Linked DNA regions of Homo sapiens. The protein of the gene in region 1 purifies or fractionates together with the protein of each later gene. This does not show direct contact. Each region holds a gene or a part of one and is shown on either strand. Other genes may lie near its edges.

Region 1 (3,657 bases):
ATGTCAAGAAGACTCTGTGGATGGAAGATATTGCTATGTCTATTTTTGGAAAATACAGTCTGCATGCGCACACACGCACACACACGGTTGCTCATACACCAGGGGCAGGACACTAAAGAAGGGAGCGTAGCCTTCCTTCAAGCATGATTTCTTGACCTCACCTTTGTCTCTTGGTGTACTGGCAAAAACCATATCAGATACTCTGAACCCTGAACAGGGATCTTCATGCTTCATTATTTCAGGTCCTTTTGCTGTTATTAGCCTGATGATTGGTGGTGTAGCTGTTCGATTAGTACCAGATGATATAGTCATTCCAGGAGGAGTAAATGCAACCAATGGCACAGAGGCCAGAGATGCCTTGAGAGTGAAAGTCGCCATGTCTGTGACCTTACTTTCAGGAATCATTCAGGTAAGGCTCAAAGATGGGGAAATGGACTGTCTCGTTTGTTAACCTAACAAGTATCTACTGAGTGCTCTTGGCTGGTCTTACTACACGGTGGATGGGGTCAGCCAGAAAAACCCCAGAGCTCTGGGAGTAACTGCAGACCAACTGCATGCCATATTCACAACTATGAGTGACGAGCAAGCAAGCTTCAGGTGGGTGTTTTAAAGATCCCAAAAGCAAGACAAGTTTGACACGGCAGGATTGGTTAGTGCTGGGAGAGGACATTCCTCTCTGCTTGGAAGAAACAGCCAGTGATCATGATCATGCACTTTAGTCTACATGATGAAGCATGCCCCCAGCTCAATGAGAGACAGGGAAGGCATTAGTGTGGTCAGCGCACTGTGGGGCACCAAGCCACTCCAGACCTTCCATTGTTTTCTGTATAACCAGTGGTTGATTTTCTAGCTACTTACCCACTTGAGGTACAAGTTTGCAGTGTTAGAAAATGGTCCAGAGGCTGGGCGCGGTGGCTCACACCTTTAATCCCAGCACTTTGGGAGGCTGAGGCAGGCGAATCACAAGGTCAGGAGTTCGAGACCACCCTGGGCAACATAGTGAAACCCCGTGTCTACTAAAAATACAAAAATTAGCCGGACATGGTGGCACACACCTTTAGTCCCAGCTACTCAGGAGGCTGAGGCAGGAGAATCGCTTGAACCCGGGAGGCAGAGGTTGCAGTGAGCTGAGACTGTGCCACTGCCTGGGTGACAGAGCAAGACTCCATCTCAAAAAAAAAAGAAAATGGTCAAGAAAGAACTTGTATATTTGCTGTGGGTCATAACTTCCTGACCTATCATGTGATTCATTTGTTTCTTTGTCATTAAAAAAAAATAGTTTTGCCTAGGTGTCTGTAGGTTTGGATTTGTGGCCATATATCTCACAGAGCCTCTGGTCCGTGGGTTTACCACCGCAGCAGCTGTGCATGTCTTCACCTCCATGTTAAAATATCTGTTTGGAGTTAAAACAAAGCGGTACAGTGGAATCTTTTCCGTGGTGTATGTAAGTAAGAAACTACCTGACGTTCTGGTACTTTTCTCTTTATTCCCCCCAACCTTCTCTTCTGTATCTCTTTTTACTTTCAAGACTCATTTTTCTTTTTCTCCAGTAATTTCCATAAAAAGGGAAAAATTCATTTATTCTAAGGTTTTCTGAAAAGAGTGTTACAAAGAGAACTAAACCTTAAAATCTCTGTTATTAATATGTGATACTGCCTACTTCACAAGGAATTTTTTGCTAGGTCTTTATTTGGTGACTGCACCATCACTCTAGGTAAAGAGAGAGCTTTTTCTTACAACTAAATCATGATCTTTTTGGAAACTAACAAATAATTTAAAGGCATGAAGGTAGAACATTTCTCTCTCAAAAACTGCTAATTAAGGCCGGGCGTGGTGGCTTATGCCTGTAATCCCAGCACTTTGAAAGGGCTAGATGGGCGGATCACGAGGTCAGGAGATCGAGACTATCCTGGCTAACAAGTGAAACCCCGTCTCTACTAAAAATAGAAAAAAATTAGCCAGGTGTGGTGGCGGGCACCTGTGATCCCAGCTACTCAGGAGGCTGAGACAGGAGAATGGCGTGAACCCGGGAGGTGGAGCTTGTAGTGACCCGAGATCCCATCACTGCACTCCAGCCTGAGCGACAGAGCAAGACTCTGTCTCAAAAAAAAAACAAAACCTGCTAGTTCAAACTGGCAAAAAATAAGTAAGGCTATAAAAGATTTAACTAACATGAATCTTTTAATTATATAGACCCCTTACCAAACACAGAGAAAATATAAATTATTTGCAAGCACTTAAGGAACAATGGTAATAACTGATCATGTTGAAATCGATCATGTGAAACTGATCACAAATTCTAAAAATTCAATGTTTTTTCACACAGTGCAATATAATAAAAAAATCAAAAACTAAACATAGCTTTAAAACTCCCATATATTTAGAAACCAAAAAACATTTCTAAATGACCCATGAATAAAGAGGGAATTAGGAAATAATTAGAATTAATTGACAGTAGAAGTACTACATATCAAAACCTCTGAGATGCTGTTAAAGCTATCCTTGAAAAGAGAGGCCTGTTGCCTTTGTAGGTATTTATGTGCCAGACACTGCTAGGTGCCAAGATGCAGCTGTGAGCTAAGAAGATACAGGCCTTGCCCTCTGGAGCTTTCAGTACAGTGGGAAGATTGTAAACCATTAATCGCATACATGTGTAGTCAATTACAATTTGTGTTGAGTGCTATGAAGAAGAAGTACCAGCTGCTCTGAAAGTTAAATAGGGAGACCTTTAGATTAGGGGTCTAGGAAAGGCACTTTGACATTTAAGTTGAGTCCCTGACTGATAAAAATGGAATCAGGCTTTAGGAATATTCTCTAAATAACAAAATTCTTAGTTTCCCATAATAGCTATTATCATACTTCTTACTCTGAGACTTGTCGAAATGCCTTGTCACAAAGGAAATAAAACATACTGAGTACTCTAGGCATCGATAGGAAAGGGTGCATGTTGTGGGCTGAGTGGGAAGTCTACTTTATTGGGTTTCAAATGAGAACTGACTATATTTGAGGTGCCCAGTTGGTAACCCTAGGATATAATTAAGTGGATTTGTTCTCTAGTTCTCCTAGGTTCCTTTCCCAAACATCAGCACTCTTGACTTCAAAGTCCTGCTAACAATAATTTCTCTCTCTTTGAGCTCCTAAAAGCTTTTCAATGTATTTACCTTTGGAGTACTTTGCTATCAACCCTTAATTCTTTCCAATTGCTCAGGACTCAGCTTCAGGGTTCCTTTTCTGGATTTTATAATATTACATTGAGACATCAGCATATGATAAGAATAATTGTTTGATAAGAATAACTATAAGGCTGGGCACAGTGGCTCACACCTGTAATCCCAGAACTTTGGGAGGCCGAGGCAGGCAGATGACTTGAGGTCAGGAGTTCGAGACCAGCCTGACCAACATGGTGAAACTCCGTGTCTACTAAAAATACAAAAATTAGCTGGGTGTGGCGGCAGGCACCTGTAATCCCAGCTACTCAGGAGGCTGAGGCAGGAGAATTGCTTGAACCTGGGAGGCAGAGGTTGCAGTGAGCCAAGATCATGCCACTGCACTGCAGCCTGGGCAACAGAGCAAGACTGTGTCTCAAAAATAAATAAATAAATAAATAACAACTATAAAAAGAAAAGAGTAACAACTATAAAGTTGTAGACTGGGTAA
Region 2 (3,554 bases), on another chromosome or scaffold:
AGATATGATTATATAAATATAAAATCCATAAGAATATAAATATTTAGAATTAATAAAAGGCAAAGTTGTTGGATATAAAGTCAGTATAAAAATCAATTGTATTTACATATGAGAGGAAACAAAACTTACTTATTTTGCACAGATATGATTATACAAATATAAAATCCACAAGAATCTAGAAATAAATGTTTAGAATTAATAAAAGGTAGGCAAGGTTGTTGGATAGAAAGTCAGTATAAAAATCAATTGTATTTATATATATATAAACAGTAAAATTTAGAAAAAGATGCCATAGCATGAAAAAACATTAAGTACTTAAGAATCTAGCAAGTGCTATGCAAGACCTCTCTGACATTTAAAAAACTTTTTTGAGAGATATTAAAGTAGCCCTGATAAGTGGAGCGATAAACTATCACTGGATTAGAGGATACAGTAAACAGGTAATCGACCGCAGTTCCAATGTAATTGCAGTCAAAATCCCAAGCATTTTTTATAGTACTTGTTAAGCTGACTCTGAAACATACAGAGGAACAGAAAGAGCAAAAAAGAGACAAGATATTCTTGAACAACAACAAAAATGGGTGATGTGCCCCTCCAGGTATCAGACTGTAAAGAGTGAGACTATATCTTAGTGCTGTAGTTATCTAGACCAGTGTTACAGAATTTGAGAAACAGACCCAAGAATATATGGACTTTAACATACCACAGAAGAGGCATTGCACATCAATAGTATGAAGATAGACTTTTCAGTAAAGGTGGTTGGACAATTGGATGTCCCTATGGGAAAAAAAAATTTCCCAGATTACCATTATTCCATACACAAATCAACTCCAGATTTATTAAAAACCTAGATGTGAAACCAAAACTAAGAAGTCTTTTGAATATAATATGGCAGAGTGTCTCTGTGGCCTCAGTGTAGAACTTTTTAAAAAGGCCATAAAAAGGCTAAGGAAAGGATTCATATATTCAGCTTCACTGAAGTGAAGTAACTTTTTATCAAAAGATAACATAAGGATAATGACAAGACAAACCACAAATTGGAAAAAGATACTTGCAGACATTACACAGTATTGAATATTCACAATACATAGAGAACTGTAGCGGGGGAAAAATTGTATGAAAGATTTAAGTACTATACAGAAGGAGAAATCTAAATGGCCAACCAACAGAAATATATTCAGCATTGTTAGTAATTGGAAATACAAATTAAAATCTGAGATATAGTTACACTGTAAGATTGGCAAAAATAAAAACATGTGATGCACCAAGCCTTGTTGCTGTGGAATGGAGGCTTACTCACTTCTGTGCAAGAGTAAGTTGGTACAAGCCAGTTGGAAAAACAGTTTGGTATTAACTAATGAAGATGTGCCCTGTGACACAACAGTGAGACTCCTAGCTATAGACCTTACGTGAGACACTCAACAGAAGTATTCACAGGAGCATCGTTTGTATAGTAAAAGCCAGAAACGTATCAACAGGACCGTGAATGACTTGTGCACAAGCCCAGCCACTCTTGAAGCTGACTCTTACAATGTTAGTCGACTGAGAGAAGCAAAAGACAAAAGAATATATGATTCCATGTATATAAACTTCATAAACAGGAGAAACTGTAATAGGTGGTGAATTTGTAGAACAAATGCCTTGAGTTTATCTTTTAAGAAAACGTGTTGCTTTTGAAATACTAGCATGCAAACATAAAGTCATGTTCTTACACTGCAAAGTAATTGTCATAAATCCTAAGTAATACAAATTTCTATTACCATGTAATCAGCTACAAGGTCCTATTACTACCATTCTGAGTAGTAGTCAAAGCAAGGTAAAAACACGTTTTAAAAAAAATATGTATCTATTACTTTCTAGGGTTTCTCACATTCTAACATTTTCCTTTTTTGTTTTTCTTTTAAAGAAAGGGTGGATTTTTTGTGGATCTCTTTGTAAGAGTATCTAACCAAGTTGCAGTTAACATGTACAAGCAGTTGGGCTACAGTGTATATAGGACGGTCATAGAGTACTATTCGGCCAGCAACGGGGAGCCTGATGAGGACGCTTATGGTAAGCTCCCTTCCATGGCAGTATCCCCAAGAAGTCGAAACAGTTACATTCTTTCTACAGATTGTAGTATTTGATTATTTTAATAAATGTAGAATATTTGACTTTAAAATTTAAATTTCCCTCAACCTACCTTTATCAACCTATTAGTAGTAGTAATTAACTTACCTATTAACTAACCAATGGTTAATTTCTGTACCTTACTGTTTCACTCTGTTACATACATATTATTTTGCTAACAAGAAAACGTGTATTGTGAGCTGAATACTGGGTGAGGTCTGGTTAGCATCTGGTACACTTGGCAATTGGGAGACATTTATAAATACATTTTGCTTAGAATATGGTGAAGTGGGGGTAGGGATAAAACCTCTTATGGGAACTTTACCTATACACTTTACATTTGATATAATACATTTTTTGGGTGTTTATATTAAACTTTGCTTCTTTACAGATATGAGGAAAGCACTTTCCAGGGATACTGAGAAGAAATCCATCATACCATTACCTCATCCTGTGAGGCCTGAAGACATTGAATAACCCTGGGCAGTGGTTCTTAGGCAGATACTCTAGATGCTTTATGGACAATATTATTTTCATTGGATGATTCTGGAGCTCTATTAGGAGAAAAGTAATCATTTTAGGTCTTAAAGACTTCAAGAAAATACAGGTTATCAATTTATTTTAAATCTCATTGTTTCCAGTTAGCAATATCATACCTATTAAAGCTGTTCATTGTAACAAAATTCAATCAAAAAGGCAGCTAGGTCAGAAGGAAACATACCACTCTCATGGTTCATAGTATTCACTGTATGTATGCTAGGGAAAAGACTTGCTCCAGTCTCCTCCTCAGTTCTGTGCCTGAGAACCACTGCTGCATATATTTGTTTTTAAATTTTGTATTGAACTGTTAATTGAAGCTTTAAAAGCATATATGAAATGTATAAATCTAAGATGTATAATACATTATTGACTCTATGAATGTTTTCTGAAGTTTGTTAGTCATTTGTAAAACTAAATCAGATTGTAATCCCAGTACTTTGGGAGGCCAAGGCAGGCTGATTGCTTGAGGTCAGGAGTTTGAGACCAGCCTGGCCAAAATCTATACTAAAAAAAATACAAAAATTAGCTGGGCATCCCAGCTATGCAGAAGCTGAAGCACAAGAATTGCTTGAACCCTGGAGGTGGAGGTTGCAGTGAGCTGAGATCGTCCCACTGCACTCCAGCCCGGGCAACAGAGTAAGACCCTGCCTCAAGAAAAAAAAAAAAAAAAAAAATCAGGATTGTGAAAGGTCATCATCATTTAAGATACGTTTAATTAAATTGTGACTTCCATACGTAGTATTTTAAAAATGCACACTTGAAGCAATCACTGTCCAGCATACTTAAGAAGCTCCCTTCTTATCGTGTAGTAAATTCTTCCCAGTCACCTGCGTTCATACCATTATACTGTTTGTTTGTTAGTCCTAGATCTTTTCTCCTCTTCACAATGCTTTGCTTAAATCCTG

The links. Proteins that work in one complex are often made in the same cells at the same time.
Region 2: the proteins of SLC26A5 (region 1) and NAA20 purify together in Homo sapiens (affinity purification with mass spectrometry; one large-scale study listed by BioGRID and IntAct). This does not show direct contact.

Annotation. Positions count from the first base shown.
Region 1 is NC_000007.14:103,408,172-103,411,828, reverse strand, and holds part of SLC26A5 (prestin), read left to right. Parts: intron 1-242; coding exon 243-409; intron 410-1,279; coding exon 1,280-1,444; intron 1,445-3,657. UniProt on the Homo sapiens protein: Voltage-sensitive motor protein that drives outer hair cell (OHC) electromotility (eM) and participates in sound amplification in the hearing organ.
Region 2 is NC_000020.11:20,030,602-20,034,155, forward strand, and holds the end of NAA20 (N-alpha-acetyltransferase 20), read left to right. Parts: intron 1-1,906; coding exon 1,907-2,052; intron 2,053-2,500; coding exon 2,501-2,586; 3' UTR 2,587-3,054; downstream 3,055-3,554. UniProt on the Homo sapiens protein: Catalytic subunit of the NatB complex which catalyzes acetylation of the N-terminal methionine residues of peptides beginning with Met-Asp, Met-Glu, Met-Asn and Met-Gln. Proteins with cell cycle functions are overrepresented in the pool of NatB substrates.